7 linked regions of the Homo sapiens genome follow. The protein of the gene in region 1 purifies or fractionates together with the protein of each later gene. This does not show direct contact. Each region holds a gene or a part of one and is shown on either strand. Other genes may lie near its edges.

The links.
Region 2: the proteins of NPHP4 (region 1) and COPB2 purify together in Homo sapiens (co-immunoprecipitation; one large-scale study listed by IntAct). This does not show direct contact.
Region 3: the proteins of NPHP4 (region 1) and ECD purify together in Homo sapiens (co-immunoprecipitation; one large-scale study listed by IntAct). This does not show direct contact.
Region 4: the proteins of NPHP4 (region 1) and LATS1 purify together in Homo sapiens (affinity purification with western blotting; one study listed by BioGRID). This does not show direct contact.
Region 5: the proteins of NPHP4 (region 1) and TEFM purify together in Homo sapiens (affinity purification with mass spectrometry, with the first as the bait; one large-scale study listed by BioGRID). This does not show direct contact.
Region 6: the proteins of NPHP4 (region 1) and GSE1 purify together in Homo sapiens (co-immunoprecipitation; one large-scale study listed by IntAct). This does not show direct contact.
Region 7: the proteins of NPHP4 (region 1) and DNAJA3 purify together in Homo sapiens (co-immunoprecipitation; one large-scale study listed by IntAct). This does not show direct contact.

Annotation. Positions count from the first base shown.
Region 1 is NC_000001.11:5,982,426-5,985,925, forward strand, and holds part of NPHP4 (nephrocystin-4), read right to left. Parts: intron 1-3,500. UniProt on the Homo sapiens protein: Involved in the organization of apical junctions; the function is proposed to implicate a NPHP1-4-8 module. Does not seem to be strictly required for ciliogenesis. Required for building functional cilia.
Region 2 is NC_000003.12:139,362,148-139,365,647, reverse strand, and holds part of COPB2 (coatomer subunit beta'), read left to right. Parts: intron 1-3,130; coding exon 3,131-3,241; intron 3,242-3,500. UniProt on the Homo sapiens protein: The coatomer is a cytosolic protein complex that binds to dilysine motifs and reversibly associates with Golgi non-clathrin-coated vesicles, which further mediate biosynthetic protein transport from the ER, via the Golgi up to the trans Golgi network.
Region 3 is NC_000010.11:73,137,009-73,140,508, reverse strand, and holds part of ECD (protein ecdysoneless homolog), read left to right. Parts: intron 1-771; coding exon 772-878; intron 879-1,013; coding exon 1,014-1,200; intron 1,201-2,438; coding exon 2,439-2,506; intron 2,507-3,500. UniProt on the Homo sapiens protein: Regulator of p53/TP53 stability and function. Inhibits MDM2-mediated degradation of p53/TP53 possibly by cooperating in part with TXNIP. May be involved transcriptional regulation. In vitro has intrinsic transactivation activity enhanced by EP300.
Region 4 is NC_000006.12:149,708,102-149,711,601, forward strand, and holds part of LATS1 (serine/threonine-protein kinase LATS1), read right to left. Parts: intron 1-3,500. UniProt on the Homo sapiens protein: Negative regulator of YAP1 in the Hippo signaling pathway that plays a pivotal role in organ size control and tumor suppression by restricting proliferation and promoting apoptosis.
Region 5 is NC_000017.11:30,898,486-30,900,862, forward strand, and holds the end of TEFM (transcription elongation factor, mitochondrial), read right to left. Parts: intron 2,078-2,377; coding exon 1,928-2,077; intron 1,122-1,927; coding exon 684-1,121; 3' UTR 501-683; downstream 1-500. UniProt on the Homo sapiens protein: Transcription elongation factor which increases mitochondrial RNA polymerase processivity. Regulates transcription of the mitochondrial genome, including genes important for the oxidative phosphorylation machinery.
Region 6 is NC_000016.10:85,651,322-85,654,821, reverse strand, and holds part of GSE1 (genetic suppressor element 1), read right to left. Parts: intron 545-3,500; coding exon 372-544; intron 29-371; coding exon 1-28.
Region 7 is NC_000016.10:4,453,368-4,456,867, reverse strand, and holds the end of DNAJA3 (dnaJ homolog subfamily A member 3, mitochondrial), read right to left. Parts: intron 2,058-3,500; coding exon 1,954-2,057; 3' UTR 1,941-1,953; exon of another isoform or gene 1,940-1,940; intron 1,323-1,939; coding exon of another isoform or gene 1,300-1,322; 3' UTR 93-1,299; downstream 1-92. UniProt on the Homo sapiens protein: Modulates apoptotic signal transduction or effector structures within the mitochondrial matrix. Affect cytochrome C release from the mitochondria and caspase 3 activation, but not caspase 8 activation.

The sequences.
Region 1 (3,500 bases):
CTACCCTCTAGGTTTACGTAAGTACATCCTATGATGTTTGCACAATGACAAAATCACCTAACACCATTTCTCAGAATGTGTCGGCACTGTCAAGGAACCATGCATAACTGTATTTACCATTTCCTTCCTTCTAGTTACTTTGTATCTAATTTGTTCCTTTATTTAGGTTTGTATCTAATTTGTTCCTTTATTTAGGTTGTTAAGGAGGAAACAGACGTCACTGATTTTATACCTTCTTCTTTTCTAATATAGTCATGTAAAGCTATACATTTCCCTCAAAGAACTGTATTAGTTATATCCTATAAATCTGTATATTTTCTTCCATTACTCAGTTCAAATTATTTTCTAATTTCCCTATTAATTCTTCTTTGATCCAGTATGTTAATTTCCTATTTGAGGATTTTCTAGATCTCATATTATTTATTTCTAACTTAAAAGCACAGTAGTCGATAAACATACTCTATAATTTGGGTCCTTTGAAGCTTATTGGGACATTTTAATGGCCCAGCATACGGTCTATCTTGGTGACTGTTCCATATGAACTTGGGAAGAACGTGTTCTCTAGCTTTGTTGGGAGTGGTGTTTAAGAGATGACAGGGTGATTGATGGTACACTTGGGAAGAATGTGTACTCTAGCTTTCTTGGGAGTAGCGTTAAGAGATGACAAGGTGATTGACGGTATTCTTCAGAGCTTCCAAATCCCTATGAGTGTTCTGATCTATCTGTTTTTTCAATAATTGAGAGAAGAAGAGTTAAAAGTCTCCAACCATGATTATGAATCTGAATATAGTTCCCTTTAGTTCTGTCCAATTTTGCTCTTTTGTACAAAAGAGTTATCAGAACAGACCTTACTGTTATGCTTTGAAAGACCAGCTTAGAAGTCTGCCCTTTTGCTGGAGTCTGGGAACTTAGATTTCAAGAGAGTTCCTACCACCTAACTGGTAAGAGGAGCTCACTGTGCCTAAACTGTTTATGTACTGTGGCTTATGCTAAACACGTGTTTCCCTTCTGAGAGTCTGGAATTTTGGACATGCTACACAACATTTCACGTGTGTTGTTACAATTCATTGCTGGAGGAATCAAACGCATCCTGTGTGACTCAACTGAGAGAGGACTCTTGGAAGCTTGTACCCTCTTCCCTCAGACATCCCCCATATGCCTCCTCCCTTTGCTGATCTTGCTCTGTATCCTTCTGCTGGATCAACCTTAGCTGAGAGTATGACTACATGCTGAGTCATGTGAGTCCTCTTAGAGACTCTTCAAACCTGGGAGGTGGTCTTGGAGGCCCCTAACACAAGTGCATACACATTTAGAGATTGTTACGTTTCCTTGATGATCACTGTCTTTATGAGGTGCCCCTTTATTTCTGGGAATACTCTTCACCTTGAAATCTACTTTTTCTGATACTAGTATAGATGCAAAGCTTTCTTTGCTTAGTATGTACATGGTTTATATTTTTCCACCCTTCTACCTGCAACCTGTTTACGTCTTTATGCTTAGAGTGCACTTTTTTGTAAACAACATGTAATTGGGTTTTAAATAACTTTTAACATACGACTTTGGATCAGGAATTCCACTTCTAGGAATTATTCTACAGACATATCTGTACATGAAAAAAATGAGGTTATTCACTGTAGCAGTGCCTATAATAGCAAATGACTGGGAAAAGTCTAAATGTTCATCAATCACGGCCTCACTCAATAAATGATGGCTCATTCATATAAAGAAACACCTTGCGGTCTTAAGAACAATAAAATTTTCTTCATGTAATAACATGAATGATCGATAAGACATACTGCCTGAATTTTTTTGAAAAGCAAGGTACAGTGCCGGGCATGTGGCTACACCTGTAATCCCAGCACTTTGGGAGGTAGAGGCGGGCAGATCACCTGAGCTCAGGAGTTTGAAACCAGCCTGGCCAACATGGTGAAACCCCGACTCTACCAAAAATACAAAAACTTAGCCGGGCATGGTGGCGCACATCTGTGGTCCCAGCTACTTGGGAGGCTGAGGAAGGAGGATCACTTGAGCTCAGGGGGAGGAGGTTTACAGTGAGCTGAGATCACACCACTGCACTACAGCCTGGGTGACAGAGTGAGACTTCATCTCAAAAAAAAAGAAAGAATGGTACAGAACGGAATACAGGAAGTACCATTTGCATTTTAAAAAGGAAAAATAAATGTAGGTATATTTACTTGTATTTGCTTAGAATTTAAGAAAGTTGTACGAAAACACACTGTATCTAGGGTGATACACCAGGTGCCTGGGGATGCCATGGGATGATTCACTTTTCCTCTGCATCCTTGTCAACTTTGAACTACGTGCATTACCTTTTCACAAATAAAAATAAAATGAAATGGGGAAATAAAATTTCCTTTGCAAAACTCCTAGGAAAGAGGGAAGGGCTATCAACTATCCTGTGAGCTTCTGGAAGGCGGCTGAGCCAGACCAGGAGGGTGGCATCCCAGCTAAAGCCGTCGCCCTGGGCAGCTGGCTTCACTCTTAATTAGCAGGTGCTGCTGCTCGTCTATAAAACGGGAGTAAGGTGGTGGCAGCCTCATAGAGCTGCTCTGAGGATTAAGTGAATGAACACAGTGAAGTGCTAGAAGTAAAGCTACAAAAGCAGCAGCCACCACAGTACCTACCACAGTGGCAAAGACACAGCAGGTGCTCAATCCAAGGGCTTGGAATTGAACGATATAGAACATCAGTGATTTAATAATAGTAAATTAGTCACAGACCCGGGGCTCCAACAACTGAATATATGTGAATATCACTCTCCCAGCTGCAGAGGAAAACGGCCTTGCCAAGCCAAATCCTGTAAAAAGGGTTGACAATGGCAAGACTGATCCTTCTCACGCATTCCCACCGGCCACTGGGCCTCACGAGGACAATCCAATCGTGTGGGTGTCCCGTGGGCAGCAGCACAGAAGCACCAGCTTGTCCAGCAGGTTCCCCGCCAGCTGAAGGGCACAGATGGATGTGCCGCCATCAGGGCCTGGGCCTGAGTGTGCCCAAGGCCGTGGTACATCCAGCCACGCACAGAGCTGCCAGAATGCCCGTAGCTCAGCCCCTGCAGTCCTCACTGCCAGGCTGAAAGCGGGCCATGCTGAGCCATGCACAAGGCCACCTGGCTCACAAATAACCCAGGAAATCAGAGTACTTGGGTTTTTAAATTGCTCCACTGTGGGCAGAAAGAAACCCTACCCAGAGTCAAAAGTGCTGACCATGTCATTGAATCATAGATTCTCTTTGCTGATGGGCCACTTTGCATCCGAATACTGCCAAGGCCCAAGGTAATGGGTATGGTGGTATAAGACTCAAACGAGTAAGTGAAAATCAATACAGATGCTCTTTGACCTATGATGGGACTCTATCCTGTTTAAGTTGAAAATGTCATAAGTTCAAATGCATTTAATACCCTTAACCTACTGTACATCAGAGCTTAGCGTGGCCCAGCTTCAACATGGTCAGAACACTTGCATGTTCCTACAACTGGG
Region 2 (3,500 bases), on another chromosome or scaffold:
GTTTTCCTGCTCTCATCATGGATTTCCCCTCACCATCATGTTGGGGCTTCCTTTGCTTCTGTCCTGTTGGATCCATTGTTTCTTATACCCCTATCTCCTTTCCTGCTTTGCTCCCTCATTTTAGGGGAACATGCCCTTCAGCAATTTCCTGAGAAAAGGATTGTTAATGAGAGATAAATTGTTTTGTGACTTTGAATATCTGAAAGTGCCATTGTTCTACCCTAAAACATATTCAACCATTTAACTGGTATATAATTGTTGGAGGTAATTTTCTCTCAGAATTTTGAAGGCATTGTTCCATTGCCTTGTAGTTATTGTTGAAGTCTAAAGCCATTTTTATTCCTCATTCTTAGTACATGACCTGGTTTTTCTCTGTGGAAACTTTCTGAATGTCATCTCTGTTGTACTGAAATGTTATAATCATGGTAGGCCTTGGTAGGAATCAGTTTTCATTAATTCTGCCAGTTATTAGATGAGCTTTTTTAATGGGAAACTTATGTCCTACATTTCTGAAGGATTTTCATGAATCGTTCTATGGTGATATCCTTCGTTTTCTGTATTCTGTCTTTCTGGAATTGTTCATGTTGTATGTCCTGCACTGATTTTCCTATTCTCTTTTAAAATCTTATTGTTTATAGATAAAAGTTTCTCGTATCTTTCTACAGATATGAATGATATATTTCTGTTTTTAGATTTTGAAGTTTTCTCTTCCCCCTATATGGTATGCTTCCTTCACGTTCCTTTTATTGCTTCATTTTGATCTGCATCTTTGCTGTTAGTGATTTTCCTCAAGTATCTGATGTCCTTGGGCCCTCATTTAAGAGTGAAGGTACAAGAAACAGATCAGAAGGTCTGAATTTGTGGGTGGGGCATATTGGGTTTGGATTTCACAATATCTGGTGTGGTTGGCCCATTTGATTAGGGAGTCTCAATGTCAGTATCTTTAGCCAATGAATTTTTGATGACTTTCCATTTATGTAATGAATTTAACAAGCACTTAACAATGTGCTAGGCACTGTTCCTGCTGACATGTAGCCTTCATGGAGTTGACATTTTAGTATTTTTAAGTCTTTTCCCTTGGGCTCAGTAGATTTTACTGAAAAGCTCCCCAGTCACCATCATTTTGGGGTCTCAGTAGAAGATACCTTGGAGTCTCAGTATTTAATATTTCATTGAGTCTGTGTATCCATTTTCATAATCTCCTGTCTTCCTTTGATACTCTGTACTTTTTCCTCCAAGTGTGCTTGGAATCTCCTGGTCTGGAGACTCTTTAGTTTGTCCTCTCCAAAGAATAAACCTGTCTTCTTTGTCATGAGGTGGGAGAGGGGAGGTGAGAGAGGGGAGGTGGGAGAGGGGAGCGGATCTAGAGTTTCTGAATGCTTTTAGGGCAGTTTGTTTGTTTTTAGCCCTACCATTCATGAGACACACTGGGTGTAAATCACATTGTTTCTATGCTGTTCTCACTCCTGATTTAGGATCTGTTTTCTCTACTGTTTTAACAAAATGTTTATATTCCTCCACCAGCTTTCCAGCTTCCAAACTTTTGTTACTGTTTCCTCTCCCTTTCTGTGTGTCGTTGGGAGCTTATGCCTTTAAAAAAAAATCCTTTTAGTGTGATTTTATTAGTAGTAGGGAATTAGCAGAAAACAAAAGTATATATTTTAGTCCGCCTCATTTCATGTGTTTTGCCCTTGGCTGTATCTGACTAGTTCCAGAGATCTTCCATCCTCCACTCTTGGGTTTTATGTTATCTATATCAATGCTAGTGGAAAAAAAGTAACTCCGGTTATTTAGAATGCCTTATTTACATCGTATTCATGGATGGATCGGGGCGGGTTGGCAGCCTGTATAAGCTGAGAAGTTAAAACATTTCAAACTTGATGATAAAGCCATCCTGAAGATATAGCCAGACAGAACCCTAAAGCTGTCCAGCTTCTCAATCTTGACTATCCCATAAATGAGCATTCTCCCTCAGTCTGGTGAAGAGGTAAACTATCCCTGAGCTTTTTGTGTAACACATTACATCCCTAGAGCTAAAAATGACCCCATCAGTAGTGTTTGTCTTGAAGGAGAAGCTAATTTAATAATTACAATAGTTGATTTAAAACAGTGGTCCCCAACCTTTTTGGCACCAGGGACCAGTTTCGTGGCAGATAGACAATTTTTCCACAGATGGGAAGGGGGTACATTTCAGGATGAAACTGTTCCACCTCAGATCGTCAGGCATTAAGAGTCTCATAAAGAGCACAGAACCTAGATCCATCACATGTACAGTTCACAATAGGGTTCATGCTCCTATGAGAATCTAATGCCGTTACAGGCGGAGTTTAGGCGGTAATGCTCACTCACCCACCCACCCACTGCTCACCCTCTGCTGTGCGGCCTGATTCCTAACAGGCCACAGACTGGTTGTTTGGGAGACCCCTGGTTTAAAAGCTTGTTCTTAATGCCTTAATGGAGCATGGGAAGGAAATTTTAGACTTCCTGTCTTTTGGATACTTGCTGAGGAACTGGACTTGAGACCAACAATAAAGGAATAGGTAATGACACCTAATTGGTGACTGGACCTGAATACACAATGTTTGCTATGACCTACAGATGACAGAAAGTTGGAAGGTTTTATATTTGACTCCCGTTTCTTTGGCCATTTACTGCTAATAGTCTCATCTGCAAAATGAGGGGTTGGACTAGATGATCTCTACTTCCCAGCCTAGTTGAGTAGATTACCAACAGCTAAGTTTACACTGCTGTGCCTAGTTTTCTTCTTTTGAAATGATTCTTGTTTAGTCAACTTTGCAAAATTCCTTTCTTTTTGACATATCTGTTTATATTTACATTTCCAGTTTTACTGGTTACTTGAGTTTAACATTAGCCAGCTTCCATTATCCTAATAAACAGTAAGAATTCTGTCACTGAATATTTTATCTGCCAGGTTTGTTCTTACCACTTCCTTTAATGACTCCTTAATTATTCCATCTTCTTATTAAATAGTGGGGTTTCTAGTTTGAGAGGGAAATGATTTGCTCTGTGAATGTGTGTACACTGTATATGTGTGTGTATATATATATATATAAAACATACATACATTTTTGTATGCATAAATATATATAATTTTTAAAAATCTGTTTAGGGCTTCAAGCAGCAAGCTCTTACAGTATCCACAGATCCTGAGCATCGTTTTGAGCTTGCTCTTCAGCTTGGAGAGTTAAAAATTGCATACCAGTTAGCAGTGGAAGCAGAGGTATGTACTAATTCATGATTTTTCATAACTGATGGAAAAGTCAGTAGGTACTTCTATGTGTTTGGTGTAATGTTTTGTTATTAAAGTTTTCCCAAATGCAAATTAGTGGCTCATTTTGTTGAAGTTATTGTCTCTCTCTTATCTTTTTAAAAGATGTATTATGTTAAACTTTGCATAAGTTAAATTGATTACATTGGAGATATTCTTAGCACTCTAATTTGTTTTAAGAAAAATTGTTTTCATATCTTATGTGAGCTCT
Region 3 (3,500 bases), on another chromosome or scaffold:
GGTTTCACCATGTTGGCCAAGTGAACTCCTGACCTCAAGTGATCTCCCCGCCTTGGCCTCCCAAAGTGCTGGGATTACAGGCATGAGCCACTGTGCCTGGCCTATCCTCCACTTTAATGAAGGCCATTTTTCTTTGACCCCTTCTGTATTTTAGAGTTCCTGGTAAAAGTTTTGTTTGAGAAAAAGGGATCTGCAACCTAAAAATATGCTTAAAAACAAATTAGAAGGCTGGGTGCGGTGGCTCATGTCTGTAATCCCAGCACTTTGGGAGGCCAAGGCAGGGGGATTATGAGGTCAGGAGTTCGAGACCAACCTGGCCAATATGGTGAAACCCCATCTTTACTAAAAATACAAAAATTAGCTGGGTGTGGTGGCGCATGCCTGTAGTCTCAGCTACTTGGGAGGTTGAGGCAGGAGAATCTCTTCAACCTGGGAGGCGGAGGTTGTGGTGAGCCGAGGTCGCGCCACTGCACACCAGCCTGGGCGACAGAGTGAAACTCTGTTAAAAACAAACAAACAAATTAGAGCCAGGTGTTTTGGCATGTACTTGTAGTGCTGGCTACTTGGGAGGATGAAGTGGGAGGATCATTTGAACCCAGGAGTTCGAGTCCATTCTGGGCAACAATGAAACCCCATCTCTTAAAAAAAAAAAAAAAAAACACTCCCCAAATTAGACTAGCTAATCCCTTCCAACCTTAAAATACTATGTATTTATGATTACTATTCTATGTTCTCTTATGAAGAAATACTCATGTTTTTTATTTTTCATAGTTCTCTTGCTATGAGCCCTGGTGAAGAAATCTTAACCTTATTACAGACAATACCATTTGATATAGAAGACCTTAAGAAAGAAGCAGCTAATCTTCCCCCAGAGGATGGTAAGTGATGGACCAGGATACAGTGGAAGGGTTAAAAAAAAAAAATTAAAATGTTCTACTCAGTCTCACAGGATCCTCTCCTAAGAGGACTTATGTGAATGTAGAATGGCAGTATTATGCTTTCTTCTTTTTCAGATGACCAGTGGTTAGATCTCTCACCAGATCAGCTGGACCAGCTGCTGCAGGAAGCTGTTGGCAAAAAAGAATCCGAGTCTGTTTCCAAGGAGGAGAAGGAGCAGAACTATGACTTAACTGAAGTCTCAGAGAGCATGAAAGCTTTCATATCCAAAGTCTCAACCCACAAGGGAGCAGAGCTGCCTCGGTAATTTGTGTTAAAGTATAAATATATAAATAGCTAGAACCCAAATGTTGAAGTCATAGTCATTGCCATTTCCACTTTTTTTTTTTTTTTTTGAGTAAATGAGTTGTACTGCTTGCTTTCTTTTTTGTGCCTAGTATAGTGATAACTTACTTATTTGAAGTCAGATTTCTAGAAGCCTCATCCTTTGCAATCCTTGAAATAAGCCAGAAAGATCACCCTAAAAACCATCATCCAGAACCACACAGGGAAACCATATACTTTACTCTTTAGTAGCTTTATGGGCTCAACATTTAACTTTCAACAAGTTCAGACCTCTGATCTCCCACCCTGCAAGCAGATTGGATACTGAAAAAGGAATTCATCAGAGGCAGAAATAATAACAGAAATATGAAACTACATTTGGCAAATAACAGGAAAAACAGGTAGATAGAATTATTACTTGTAGGCTGGGCGCGGTGGCTCATGCCTGTAATCCCAGTACTTTGGGAGACCGAGGCAGGCAGATCACGAAGTCAGGAGTTCAAAACCAGCCTGGCCAGCATGGTGAAACCCTATCTCTACTAAAAATACAAAAATTAGCCGGGTATGGTGGCGCACGCCTATAATCCCAGCTACTTGAAAGGCTGAGGCAGGAGAATCGCTTGACCCCGGAAGGCAGAGGTTGCAGTGAGCTGGGATCGTGCCACTGCACCGCAGCCTGGGTGACAGAGCAAGACTCCGTCTCAAAAAAAAAACAAAACAAAAAAAACTGTTACTTGTGTATCAAATATATCATTATTAGTGTTGATGCTCTTGAACCTGATGAAAGATATAAATTTATATTTGGTATTCTCTCTTTAAGAAAGCAGGGATAAGGGAAGATATGTTCTTGTTTATTTTTTAAGCTTTAGTTCTTAAAAGAACAGGCTTTATTTAAATTAACTCAAATAAATAATGGTTTTGCTAATGCTAGATATCTTATTGGGGCTAGAGAGTGGGTAGGTCCCTAAATCAGCATAAGCTAAATGTACATAAACAAGATGCAATTTTTACTTTTCATTTATCAGACTTTCCCATTTCTGTTGTCCTGCAAGGCCAGTAAACTCAAGGATTTTTAAAACTTAAACTACAACTTTTCTTGCTGTGCCTCCTTAGAAATTCTATCTTTGGTAGCTTTCCTAAGAATGGCACCACTTTAGAAAAGTTTCAAAGAGTTGTATTTAGAATAAATTAATTGTCTTTGTCCTTTAATATTGCAGAGAACCTTCTGAGGCTCCAATCACTTTTGATGCAGATTCTTTTCTTAATTATTTTGATAAGATTTTAGGTAAGTAGTGGTGTGATGTTGACTTTCATTTTGAAACTGTTAGTAGTATGGCTGTTGCTAGAGCATTGGTTTATGAGATATCTCAGAAGCCAAAATGTTTGCTTTCTCTTCCTGGTTTGAGTTGCTTTCAACCATGAATTACTACCCATGAATAATTTTGTAGAGGCTGCCTAGCTTAGTGTTTGACATATATAGTAGCTGCTCATTAATTTTTTTTTTTTTTTTTTGAGACAGTGTCTCGCTCTGTTGCCCAGGCTGGAGTGCAGTGGCACGATCTCGGCTCACTGCAAGCTCCGCCTCCTGGGTTCATGCCATTCTTCTGCCTCAGCCTCCTGAGTAACTGGGACTACAGGCGCCTGCCACCACACCCAGCTAATTTTTTTGTATTTTTAGTAGAGACGGGGTTTCACCGTGTTAGCCAGGATGGTCTCGATCTCCTGACCTCATGATCCGCCCATCTCAGCCTACCAAAGTGCTGGGATTACAGGCGTGAGCCACCGTGCCCGGCCTCATTAAATATTTGAGAGTGACTGAATGCTGTGTGTTTAAATAGGGTTTTACCTTGGCTCCCATATTATATTGTTCTTTTTTGGAATTACTGTACTTACAAATCAGTAATAAAAAGATAACTCAAAAAATAATTATAATATGTATATATGTACAGAACTGCAGAGAGAAAGATTGGGATACCCGGAAACTGCTAAAAGATGCTTACCTCTGGGGAGAGAGTGAGATTGGAGACAATACTTGTATGGCTTGAATGTTTACATCAAAATGTATTCATTTATTAGGTATTTTTAAAAATTTTTTAAGAAAAATATTTTAATTAATTGAATTCACTTTTTTTTAAGCTAAATCTTTTGATTCAGCTTGTACGCTTTTCCACAACATTAAATGCACACATATCTGCCAGCATTACCATTTGTAGAAGGGATTTTTGTGAAGTAGACTGACTGTGTGTATTAGTCTTTTTCTGTGGGTAACATTCTAATTA
Region 4 (3,500 bases), on another chromosome or scaffold:
ACAGGATTCATTTTAAAGAAACTATTATTTCCATGAAACAATGTCACTTCATTTATCAGGGGAAATAACAGAAGCATTACATTTGAATATTCATTTCAATTTTAATTGTACAAGACCACCCTGGTCAATATGGTGAAACCCCGTCTCTACTAAAAACACAAAAATTAGCCGAGCGTGGTGGCAGGCACCTGTAGTCCCAGCTACTCGGAAGGCTGAGGCAGGAGAATCGCTTGAACCACAGAGGCAGAGGTTGCAGTGAGCCGAGACTGCACCACTGCACTCCAGCCTGGGCGACAGAGCGAGACTGGATCTCAAAAAAAAAAAAAAAAAAAATTTCAATTGTAAGATAATCTAAATCTTCTGATCTCAAAAACGCTGAAATGGAGGAATTGTGTATATCTTTAGCCAATTGCTTTTGGTAAATATATTCTGGCAGAGACTATATTCACATACAGTACTCGACTCCATTTCCCAGATTTGGCCAAAGCTGGATGAGCAGATGTAACATATCTCAATTCTGGACTGAGGCAGTTAAAAGTCACTTTGCTTCGGTTTTCCTGCTTTAATGACAATGTAGGTTACATTCTGAGATGGTGGCTTGACAATATGGAAGGAAGGTGGATCCCTAAGCCACTGGATGGAGAACCCTACTGACTCCCACTGAACTCTGAGCAAGAGAAACATTTCTGTTGTGTTAAGCCATTGATATTTGGGGATTTGTTACCACAAAACAGCCTAATAACATTGTGAAAATAGACAAAGACTGCCCAAATGGAAACAAACAAAGGCTATTTAATTAGATCTTACTATATAGGTAGGGAGTCAGCCACTGTCAACTTGTGCTTGGCAAAGATTCAAAGGCAAGCAGGGGAGTGGGAAATCTTTATACTAAAAAAAGGGGGAAGACATCAGGTATGCTCTGATTGTAGGTTGTTGGCATGGGAAACTGGAGGTGGGCTAACTGATGTAAACCAAAAATAAAATTCTAAGTCCTTCAACCATCTGAATGAACCCCTCCTCCCAGCCAAGAGCATTTGAAAGTTAACCTGAAAAACTAGTTCCAGCCATGATGGGAAGCGGAGTTTGGCCATACCTCATTATTCCCTCCTCCCTGTTGGAATTCAGGCACAGCTGACCAGCACTAACATTAAAACAAATCTTAAGACTGACAAAACAGACTCTCTGTAGCAATAAGATACCCAATTCCAGCCTGACTCTAGCATAGTATCACATGACAGATGGCAGGCCCTGAAAGAAATCCAAGTATTTGACCCCAAATTATGTTTCTTTGCCATATCTTCAAACAGTCCTGCAAAGCTGTCTCTTGTGCGGAAAATCTACATTCTGAAGTTAATTCCCTTCCTTTCTCAGGCCTTTTGCCTGATCCAGGAGAGAATCAACCCTGATAAGAAACATTTACAATGTATTATCTCTGAAGCCTGCCACCTGGAGGCTTCCTTTACATAATGGGAACTTTGGTCTCCACAACCCCTTACCTTGGCTCAGACATTCCTTCCTATTGATTCTATCTGCATAATGGGAACCCTGGTCTCCACAACCCCTTATCTTTTTTTTTTTTTTTTTTTTTTTTTTAGATGGAGTCTCACTCTGTTGCCCAGGTTGGAATGCAGTGGCTTGATCTTGGCTCACCACAATCTCCGCCTCCCGGTTTCAAGTGATTCTCCTGCCTCAGCCTCCTGAGTAGCTGGGATTACAGGCGTGCGCTACCATGCCTCGCTAATTTTTGTATTTTTAGTAGAGATGGGGTTTCACTATGTTGGCCAAGCTGGTCTTGAACTCCTGACCTCGTGATCCACCTGCCTCGGCCTCCCAAGGTGTTGGGATTACAGGCGTGAGCCACTGTGCCTGCCCACAACCCCTTATCTTAACCTAGATACTCCCTTCTATTGATTCTAGGTCTTTAGACAGTAACAACTCTTTCGACCAACTGCCAATCAGAAAATCTGTGAATCTACCTATGACCTGGAAGCCATCTGCTTCAAGGTGTCTTCCTTTCTGGACCTAACCAATGTACATCTTACATATACTGATTGATGTCTTATGTCTCCCTAAAATGTATAAAACCAAGCTGTAGTCTGATCACCTTGGGCACATGTTCTCAGGAGCTCCTGAGGGCTGTGTCATGGGGCAATAGCCATTCATATTTGGCTTAGAATAGATCTCTTAAAATATTTTACAGAGTTTGACTCTTCGTCGACACTGGAAGCGGGGTATCCTATGTGGTTGATTTGGGAAGCATATTTGGCTTTCTCTGAGTCGTCCCGAATTGGAAGAAGGCACAAAAATTAGGGAAGCTGGTAATTACTGACCAAGTCCTGACTGGGCCTATTGCTACATAGGTCATGGGTCAGAGTTCTAGTTTTATATATGATCTGGCCATTGTCCATCTGTATATTCAGTGTTTCATTATCCTAATACAGAAAACTGGTACCTGGAAGTGAGGTGCTGCTACAATAAAAACCTATGCAGTCCTGCCTTAGTGATACTGCCTTAGTGGTCAGATTAAGGGCTGAGAGGAAACAGATACCGGAGGCTGGAAAGATGGAGGATCATGTTTTATAGTGGCAAAATATCTGGTAACGCTGTTGCCTATAATAACTTTTCATACAACTACAAGGTCAGTGAACATACAAAGAGGCTACTGACCTTGTAGTGTTATAGGAGTTTGGTAAAGAGGATTTTGGAAGTGAGTATTGGCTGCTATTAGATATTTGGCAAGTATTATAAGTAAATGATGAGTTCAAGAAGGAAGTAGTAGATTTGAAAGCAAAAACAGAAGAGAATAGAAAAAGTTCAGAAATTTAAAGCCTTGAAGGATTGGAAAAGCAGCTTGTACCTAGACCCCTAGAGGCAGGATTAAAAGACTGAGCACAGATGCCCACTGAAACCCCTTAGCTAACTAGTGCTTCTGTGGTTAAGACCATATTAAAGACGTAGCCTTCCCATCAAACCTAATAGCCTCAAACAACCAAATGAGAGGAGGAGGAATAGACGCTCTTAAATCTTTGGATGAGTTTACCAATACATGTGAACTTCGACTGTGGTTACTGACACATAGAACTGAAGGAAACCAAACAGATCGGAAGAGGCTTACTAACTTTAAAGAAACTGTTTTGTTAAAAAAAAAAAAAATATCTTTTGGCCGGGCACGGTGCCTCACACCTGTAATTCCAGCACTTTGGGAGGCCGAGACAGGCGGATCACGAGGTCAGGAGTTTGAGACCAGCCTGGCCAATAAGGTGAAACCTCATCTCTACTAAAAAATACAAAAATTAGCTGGGCGTGGTGGCATGTGCCTGTAGTCCCAGCTACTCAGGAGGCTGAGGCAGAAGAATTGCTTGAACCTGGGAGGCGGAGGTTGCAGTGAGCGGAGATTGTGCCACTGCACTCTAGCCTGGGTGACAGGGTGAGACTCCATCTCAAAAAACAAAATGAAATTTTTTTTTCTTAAATCATCTCAAGTTCATACTAAAAAAATC
Region 5 (2,377 bases), on another chromosome or scaffold:
CAGGCATGCGCCACCACACCCGGCTAATTCTGTATTTTTTTTTTAGTAGAGACAGGGTTTCTCCACTTTGGTCAGGCCAGTCTCAAAACTCCTGACTTCAGGTGATCCACCCGCCTCAGCCTCCCAAAGTGCTGGGATTACAGGCGTGAGCCACCATGCGTGGCCAGCTTTATTCTTATAATAAGTACCACCTAGGAAAACCATTATTCCCTATTTTAACAATATGATAATAATGCAAATGTTTAGTATAGATAGTATTTGCTTTTAAAGGGAGATAACTTTGTTTCTTGTTTTGTCAATTTGGCATCTTACTGTTTCTTTTTTTTAATGAAAAATGTTTAAAAATTATGTGGTCTTGCTATGTTGCCCAGGCTGCTCTTGAGCTCCTGGGCACAAGCAGTCCTCCTGCCTCAGCCTCCCACAGTGCTGGGATTATCGGCATAAGCCACTGCACCAAGCCCCATGTTACTGTTTAACACATTAACCTGAGAGGCACAGAATCTCATAAAATGTTTATTGATTTGGTCTTGGCTTATTGTGTAAACCATTTAATAGCCAAAAGTCAGAATTTAAACATCTAAAATACACTGAAAATGTGTTCTTTTCCAATAACATGGATGTTCACAACAGTTGGTGTTACGTTAGAGCTAATAATTATACTTTAGCACGTTAACCTCAGAATTCTAAGGCTGAGAGTCAAACACTGCTAATTCATAGAAGGCAATAGCTTGTAATAATGAATCATAAAGCTCTTCTACTCTTTGTAGTTCAGTAGATAAAAACATCTGTCTGTAGTGAACTATTTTATCTGATGGGAAGAACACCCGAGGATCCGCCTTCAGTATAGAATCGAAGAGAAACTGCTTCACTAGCTCTTTTCCACTAGTCCGGGAGTCACCAATCATCAGTTCAAAATGCTTCCCCACTGCATTTCGATTCATGCTCAGCACCTGATGCTGCCCATCCTGGGCAAAAGTTTTATTTAATAAGGCATACAGCATGGCTTCCATGATATGAAAATGTAACAGTATTGGAAACAGAGATGAGTTCTGAATGGAAAGTCCTGTTTTTTCCAGAACATAGAAATCTGCTTTAGGCATCTTTGAAATGATCGAGGAAATCTTTTTAAAAAAAGACAAAATAAAGGAACAGAAATAATTCATTACATTTTATGTTTGGTCCCCTCTCTGTCCCACTTCTATTTAAAAATATTATAATTAGTTAATTTATACTATATTGACAATTTTGAAATAACTGAAAAAGCCATTTTATGAGCAGTCTGGTTCTGGTCATGGTTATGTCACAACAACAGCTAAGCTAAGCTGTTTAGTCCTCCTAAGTACCAGTTTCTTGATCTGTACAGTGGACTTCATAATTTCTAAAATATGTATTGGCTTTAAGGTTAGACAACTTAAAACTGTTTTACTAAACCTTCAAACATTTTCTGGGATAGAGCATACGGTTAGAATAACTAGCAAGAATCAATCACCTCTGCAACTGACTAATCACATCAGATGCTTGACTGAACCACAGATTTCATATGTATAATCAAGGTGGTAATTCCTGACCATTAAGGTGATAATTCCTGACCATTTCGCAAGGTTTTGAAAACTCAAATGAGACAATGTGATGGCATTTTGAAAAATAAGCTTTATAAATAAAAGAGTGATAATGTTCTATAACATTTAGAATGAAATACCATTGATTTTCTCAGTATCTGCCTTCGATGCATAAGGCATTTCTTGAACTAACTAAAGGTTGAATTTTTAAAAATCAAAGGTGATGGAAAACATAATAGGAATAAGTGAGTAACAAGTACCAGAAGAAAACCCATCTTTACTATTTTATTACATTCCTTTTGGGACCAGAAGATTAAACTACACAAGGAGCTCTAGCAGGTAGGAATCTGGAGGTGCAACTGCCTTACCTCTTCTAAATAGACTGATGATGAGTATATTCCTCTCATTAAACTCCAACGGTCACTTTGCTGCCAGTCCAGCACTGTCAACTTACGATCAAGGTGAGCCCAGGCAATTCTTCGAGTACCAAAAACGATAGATATGATACTATTAACTGCCTAAAAGAAAAGACTGATTTAATTAGAAGTATAAACATTTTAGTTTTTTCTTTTTTTGAGACGGAGTCTCGCTCTGTCTCCCAGGCTGGAGTGCAGTGGCGCGATCTCAACTCACTACAAGCTCCACCTTCTGGGTTCATGCCATTCTCCTGCCTCAGCCTCCCGACTAGCTGGGACTACAGGCGCCCGCCACCACGCCCGGCTAATTTTTTTATTTTTTTTTTTAGTAGAGATGGGGTTTTACTGTGTTAGCCAGGATAGTCTCGATCTCCTGATCTCATGATCCACCTGCCTTGACCT
Region 6 (3,500 bases), on another chromosome or scaffold:
CACCACGTGGTGCACGGGCCGCTGGAGGCTGCAGGCGGGGATAGTGGGCAAGGTGGGGACAGGTGAGTGCACACCTGCTCCTGCATGGGGGGACGGCTAAACTCCCTGCATCACCCCTGGCGCTCAGTCGGCACCCAGACTCCTGGCACCCCGAACGAGGACGGGGCTTAAGCAGCGGGGGGAGCGAGCTGCCACTGCCACCTCAGTGTGAAGGGGCACAGACAGGGCTGCAATCCCCAGGGCTCAGCGGCCGACAACCATCTAGCAGGCACAGCCTCATCTGTGCAGACCGCAGGCTGCCTGGGGACCCAGACCCTGAGCACTGTGTCCCCACCTGGCCACCTCACCGAAGTCCCCGCCGACCAACTTACTTGAGTGGCGGGAAGCGGGAATCCTGCACAACTGAGCTGGGGGAGAGGCCGAAGGGGTAGGGGGTGCTGAGCAGGTGCGAGGGGATGGCTGGTCCCCCTGCCTTCTCCTGAGGGAGCGGGGGCTCCACAATGAGGCGTTCCCGACCTCCACTGCTGCTCCTGGAGCCGGCATCCTGCGGGAGGAGAGCGTCCAGTCAGGGCAGGAGCCTGGTATAGGCCACTGACCACAGGACACAGCCAGGTCTCCTGACTCACGGGAAGGCGCTAGATTTAGTTCATGTTCTAGAAACATCCTTTCCCTAAGGCTTTCTACGCAAAACATGGTGCATGTGGTGTGGGAAGCAGAACCGTAAGAAAGGGGATGTGGCTGCGACAGGTCTGGGGTGAAGTGCGTCTCGGGATCCGTCTCCCTCCCTGGGCCTCCTCAGTCCAGCAAAAGAACTAGAACCCCCCAGAAACACAATGTGTGCAGGTGAAGGATGCAGGGTGGCAGGGGCTCCTGCCTCCACCCCTCCTGGTGTGGACATCCGAAGGTCACACCAGACACACACCCGGGGAAGCAGACACCGTTGGCACCCAGCACGCCGTGAAGCGAGTGCCACGATGTAGCCAAGACGTCAACTGCGCCGACAGCTGCCCACCTGGCCGCAGATGTCCTGGCCCTGGTGCCCACGTGGAGGGCAGGGGCAAAGGAAGCTGGCACTGCCCCTGGGCCGAAGGTGCTGGTCTGCCCCCAACCACCTCCTGGGGTGGCCCTGGCCCTGGAGCCCACCAGAACAGGCAGCAGCTGGGCCCTGACTGGCCAGCTGGGGTACCGGCCTTCACACACACGGTGGGGCAGGGAAGGCAACAGCTCGCCTGTCCCAGGCTCCTGGACACAGTGGACCTGGGTGTAGCTGGGAAGGTGGTCCAGAGGACTCAGATGAGGGGTCTTCTCCAGGCACAAAGCAGGAGGAGGCAGTGGCCCAAAGCCCACCTTCCGGGCTGAGGTCCCTGCCAAGTTCAAGGATAGGCCGTGCCACCCCTAGCCACGCAGAGGCTGCCCCGCACACACGCAGGGTCCAGCCCGGAGAAACCAGAGCATGAAAAGGCCTTGCTTGTTCCTGTTATTCGTGTGACTAAGTGGGAGGAGGAGGAGGAGGGGGTAGGAGGAGGAGGAGGGGGTAGGAGGAGGAGGAGGAGGAGGAGGGGGTAGGAGGAGGAGGAGGAGGAGGGGGGAGGAGGAGGAGGAGGGGGAGGGGGGAGGAGGGGGGAGGAGGGGGGCGGAGGGAGCCTCAGGGCGGCCCAGATGGGGGCTGTGCTCTGGACTCTGGATGGCTGCCAACCCAGGCGTCACTCTGTCACTGGGGCAGCCGTTCTCAGCCCCAGCATCTTCCCCATGTGGGGACAGCACTGCCCAGGCCTACCCTGACCTGGGGGTGTCTGAGAGCCATGGCCACGCTGGCCCCTCTGAGCTTCCCAGGGATGCAGAGCCACGGGAACCCGGCCCTTCCTCACGTTCCATCTGGCCATGTCAGGTAACGACTGCTGATCAGCGGGCAGTGCTCCTGAAGAGCACCAGCCCCGCTCTGCCTCCCTGAGCCACGAAATGCCAAACACCCAAAAAACAAGGAGGCCATGGCCGTCTCCCCACAAGATCAGCAGGAATGATGGCCCAGGGGCTCTGAGACCTGCCCCACCGTGGAGAAGCATCTGTCTCCCAGGGGCCGTGCCTGTGTCCCTGACCCGCCAGCCCCTCTTCCTGGGCCCATCCATCTTCATAGCGGCAGACGGTGACCCGGCAGCAGCACATGGCACCCGCGCAGAGGCAGTGCAGGCAGCCCGGGCCGGCGCCTCCCCTCTCTCCACCCTCCAGGAGACAGTCAGCGAGGATTAACTGGAGGAGCCGCCGCCGCCGCCGCCGCCTGGAATCTTCAATGAGAGGCAGCATCTGCTCCCTTCCCGCGGGCTGAGCCCCGGCCCCCCTTCTCTGTAGGGTCCTCCTGGGTTCACGACTTCTGACCTGCCTCTCCAGGGTGCTGGTCTCGAGGGTGGGAGGTACACATGGGCACTGACGCCCTGCGTGGGGCCGGGAACTTCCTATTGAGGAGCCAGCGCCTGGCCTTGGGGTCTCCAGCCGGTGTCAGCAACCGGGGTAGTGGGGGAGTGGCCGAGGGGCCAACCTGACCTTGGGAGACCTGGCCATCCTGTCGTGCCTCGTGCACACATCAATGGCATGTGCCCGTCACGGCACCTGCTCAGAGGACAGCAGAGTTGATGGCACGGCTATGAACGGGCATGCGGGGGACTCACAGGGCAGCAGAGTTGATGGCACAGCTGTGCACGGGCATGTGGGGGACGCACCAGCAGGGTGGGGGCCCGGACATGGCAGGTGTGTTGCCAGGCTGGCCTGCCTACCCCAGCCCCGTGAGGCTATTTCCAGGCTGGGCTTCTAGATCCTGCCTCACGCCCCTACCCTGCCTGGCATAGGGCCAAACATCTGAGGAACGGAGCACGAGGAAGGACACACCCTGTTCCTAGGGTCTGGGATGGACTTAACAAGACGGAGTGGCCCCTGGCCCCCCAGCATCCAAGTAGCACCCCAATGAACACCAGGCCTAAAGCTAGTGGGTCTCTGGATGCCCAGAACAGGGGCCTCGCCTGCTCAGGCACCCGGGGTACCTGGACTCCCCCTCCCAGGCTGGTGGGGAGGCCTCCAGGGCAGGAGGGAGACGACAGCCAGGGGCTTCAATCATCACCCAGCCTTGGGTGGCCAGAGTCAGAAGAGGGCTGGAGGACAGACCTCGACCTGAGGACAGCACCCAGGGTCAAACTACCAACAGCCCAGGCCTGCCGCCCTCCTCCGCATGCTGCCCGCGCCGTGGGCCGGGTCAAACGGCAAAGCACAGGGCCCCAGCCGCCCCGCCACAAGGAGGGGCCTGTCCCCAGCCCAGACACGGCCCTTGAACCCCTTCTCCCCTCAGCCGAGGACAAAGCCCTGCTCGCAGGCCAGATGGCACCTTCCTGGCCTGGCTGAGGACAAACAGGGAGTCCGGGGGGCTGGGGGGCAGCCAGCAGGCGGGGCAGGGGCCCGGCGAGCCAGACCCACATGTCTGTGGCTTCCGTCTGGCTGGCGCCCGGCCAACCCTG
Region 7 (3,500 bases), on another chromosome or scaffold:
GAGCACAGGATGAGGCCAGCCAAGTCTCCTGTAACCCCCATAAGCCACCTGCAGAGGCTGTCTGAATTCTTTCAAAGAAGAAATGACCACAATTTAGGTTTGAAATATCTTTTTGCAATAGATAATCTTATTTACATTAATACAGAATCATTTTACATTCCTAAATCAGACACTAATAGATGCTTTATTTTAGTGAATTATAAAGGAAAACAAAAAGGAAACTGTTGAGAAGTGTTCTTCATTAACCTGTCTAACGACAGCCCGAAGATCCTGAAACACATGGAAACTGCGACATGCTACCAGCAGAGGCTGGGGAATGGGGGTTCTGCTCTCACTGAATGGTGGGGAACCTTCAACTGCTTAGCCTGTGCTTTCCTTTTCTGAATCAACATTTACAAAGGAAAAAACAATGATTAGCACTGAATAATTTAAACACACTTCAGAAAATAGATGTCAACAGTGTAAGTGGGAGAACCAAGCCCCTGACTAGCAACAGTGGCAGGGCTTCAGTTCCCAAGGCAGCTGAAGTCTGGCCAGCACAGTGCTGCAATGGGCTGTGGCTCAGCAGAAGGGCAGGAGCCCTCCATGCCTGGCTTACAACAACAGGACTCAATAGTCAGGGACAGGCGGCCATCCCGGATGGGGTGGGAGCAAGGACTGTACATCCTGACAAGGATCACCACCCACACGGTCAGAGCAGAACCCCCAGGGACTCTCTGGGCCTCTACGTGCCTCCCAGGCACCGACTGTGCAGCTGCTTGGTACCCCGGGAATAAAAACTAACTGAGCAGAGCAGCTGATGCCTCGGCAGGGCCCCTCATTAGGGGAGGACGGTGCTGGTGGGGCCTGGGGGCCCCACGCTCCCAGTGAAGACAACCTGTCAGGAAGAACTCATTCTGGAACCTCCCGGAGGTTTGCTGAGAAGGAAATTAATCACTTCGTAACTTGATGCAGCTTAAGGCTTCATTTCTAAGCTGTAAGCATGGCCTTTAACTAAGATATCCACAATATTCAATTCCAAATTAGAGTTTTAGCCCTGCAAGAGTCTAACCATCTCCCTCTGCCTGAGCCAGGGGCCGTCACCTACCAATGGACAGGAAACTGCCACCAGCCTCTGGGGCTGCATCCTACTGCCCGGGCTGTCCACTGTGACCTTTCCGTGGAGAGAGGTGTTGTCCCATGATTTTGCTGTTGCCAAGGCCGTCCAGAGGCTCTGCGGGTGGGAGCTCAGTGCTGCTGTTCTGGAATCCTCCCGTCTCCCAGGTGCCCTGGCCCTTGGAGGGGCTGCTGCTTCCCGGCCTAGTTTCCAGTGGATCTTTTTCCTGAGCCAAAGAGATAGGCTGTTACCTTATACTCAACATTTCAAGGGAACACACCCCTGTGGGGAGCGTCTGTTAATCCCTGGAAAGCAGCTGTGCCAAGAGAGGGGCGAGAACCCCACTTGCTGAGATGAGCATAATAAACCAAAGTGGGTCCCAAGATGACACGGCGAGCAAGCGCTACCCCTGGAGCAGCCCCCAGGCTTGCACAGCCCTGCGCTGTCCACGCAGGAGGGCAGCTTCCAAGCAGGCAGGACGTGAGGAGATCTGAGTTCTAGGCCTGGCTCTGCCTGACTCGCCCTCTGTGACCATGGGCAAGCCGGACCCACCACTGCAGGGGGGCTGTACAACAGCCCCAGCATCGCCACCTCCCCAGGAAGAAGACACAGCCAGAGGCTGGCCGCGGCAGCCCAGCCAGTCCTGCACTACAGGCTGATTGCCACGTCATCTATTCCCTAGGCTGAGAGGCCAGCTCCTAGTGGAGCTAGGTTTACCACACCTTGGACTGGCACCTGTTCCAACTCCTGGGGGTGGGGGCACAATATTGGTTAAAGTGGGAGAAAACCAGGATTAGTTCACAGAGGAAAACAAAGGGAAAAAAAACCTCCAGGGTTTTCCTACCTCGGCTGGGATATCATGAGGTAAACATTTTCTTAAGTTTGGAAAGGAATCCCTCCTCGTCCTCCCCAGCCTCACGCCTAGCCTTGCTTCCTGCGGAGCTATCCATGGTGCTGCCACCTGGGCACAAACAGCAGAAAGAACTGGCGTCATGGGCCTGCACTTCCACAGTCACATCCCAGGGCCCACCTACCCCCGCCTGGCCACCCAGGGGCCCACGTTCAAGAAGCGGCCAAGTGCCACCTCAAGAAGAGTGGGGGCCACTCCTAAGATGGCACAGGATGCCTCACCTTGCAGACGACTGAGGTGAACAGGCCACTCAGAGCCTGAGGGTCTCCCAACTGCTCTTTCAATCAAGGACCCACAGCAGGGAAACAAGAAATAGAGACGGACTATGACAGCTGTCTCTATCTGAGCAACAGTGACAAAAACACAGTCAAGTGCCAGGCACCTCCCAGGCCAGGCCATACACTTCCTTACAGGCAAATTTCACAGATGAAAAAACAAAAAAAGGAGGCACAGAGAGGTTACAGGGTTTACCCAAGGCCACAGAGCCAACAAGCGGGAGGGAGGACTGAGTGCGAGCCCATGCAGTCTGACTCCAAAGCTGAGACTCAACCACCATGCTGTTGGCTATAAGAAGGTAAATAATGACTGCCAAGAAAAACCCTACTCTAGACCAACTGGCCAGATTCCATGCTGCTGTGTGCGCAAAGACCCTGCAGAACAGCCCATGTGGGAGTCACGGCCACGCACAATCCTTTGTCACAGGCACTCCATCTCATCCCTCACATCAGCAGTCTATCTCCCTGAGCAAGTTGTCCCCATTTGGGGCACCTAACCTAAATGCTCTCAACCTAGGGAAGCTGTGCTGCAATTTCTTTAGGGCCCAGGCTGACACCATCTAGAGGTACTTTCTCACACAAACGTGTTACAGATTTGCCAACTACTAGACAAGGAGTGCACACTTTTGTTGTGAGTTAGAATATAGACCTGAACTTGGCATGTTAATTGTAGAGCTCATTTTTAATGTGCTCAGAGACCTAGGCCACGCACAGTGCATAAAAGAGTAAAGGCCTCAGTCTAAGTAAGAAGGTGCCTTCGCTAGTGAAAGGTCCAAAGTTTGGGGCCACAGGTCCCCGGGAAGGGGTGAGGGAGGCTACATAAAACAGAGTGAGACCCAGTCTCAAAAAAGAAAAGGCCGGGCACAGTGGCTCACGCCTGTAATCCCCGCACTTTGGGAGGCCAAGGCAGGCGGATTGCCTGAGCTCAGGAGTTCGAGACCGGCCTCGAACATGGTGAAACCCATCTCTACTAAAATACAAAAAATTAGCCAGGGGCGGCATGCACCTGTAGTCCCAGCTACTCGGGAGGCTGAGGCAGAATTGGTTGAACCCAAGAGGCAGAGTGCGTTGCAGTGAGCCGAGATCACGCCACTGCACTCCGGCCCGGGTGACAGAGTGAGACTCCGTCTCCAAAAAAAGAAAAAAAAAAAAAGAACAACAAGGAGCCATACTGTGTCTCTCACTCAAAAAGTCACATAGTAATTGCAAGCCCCCCCAG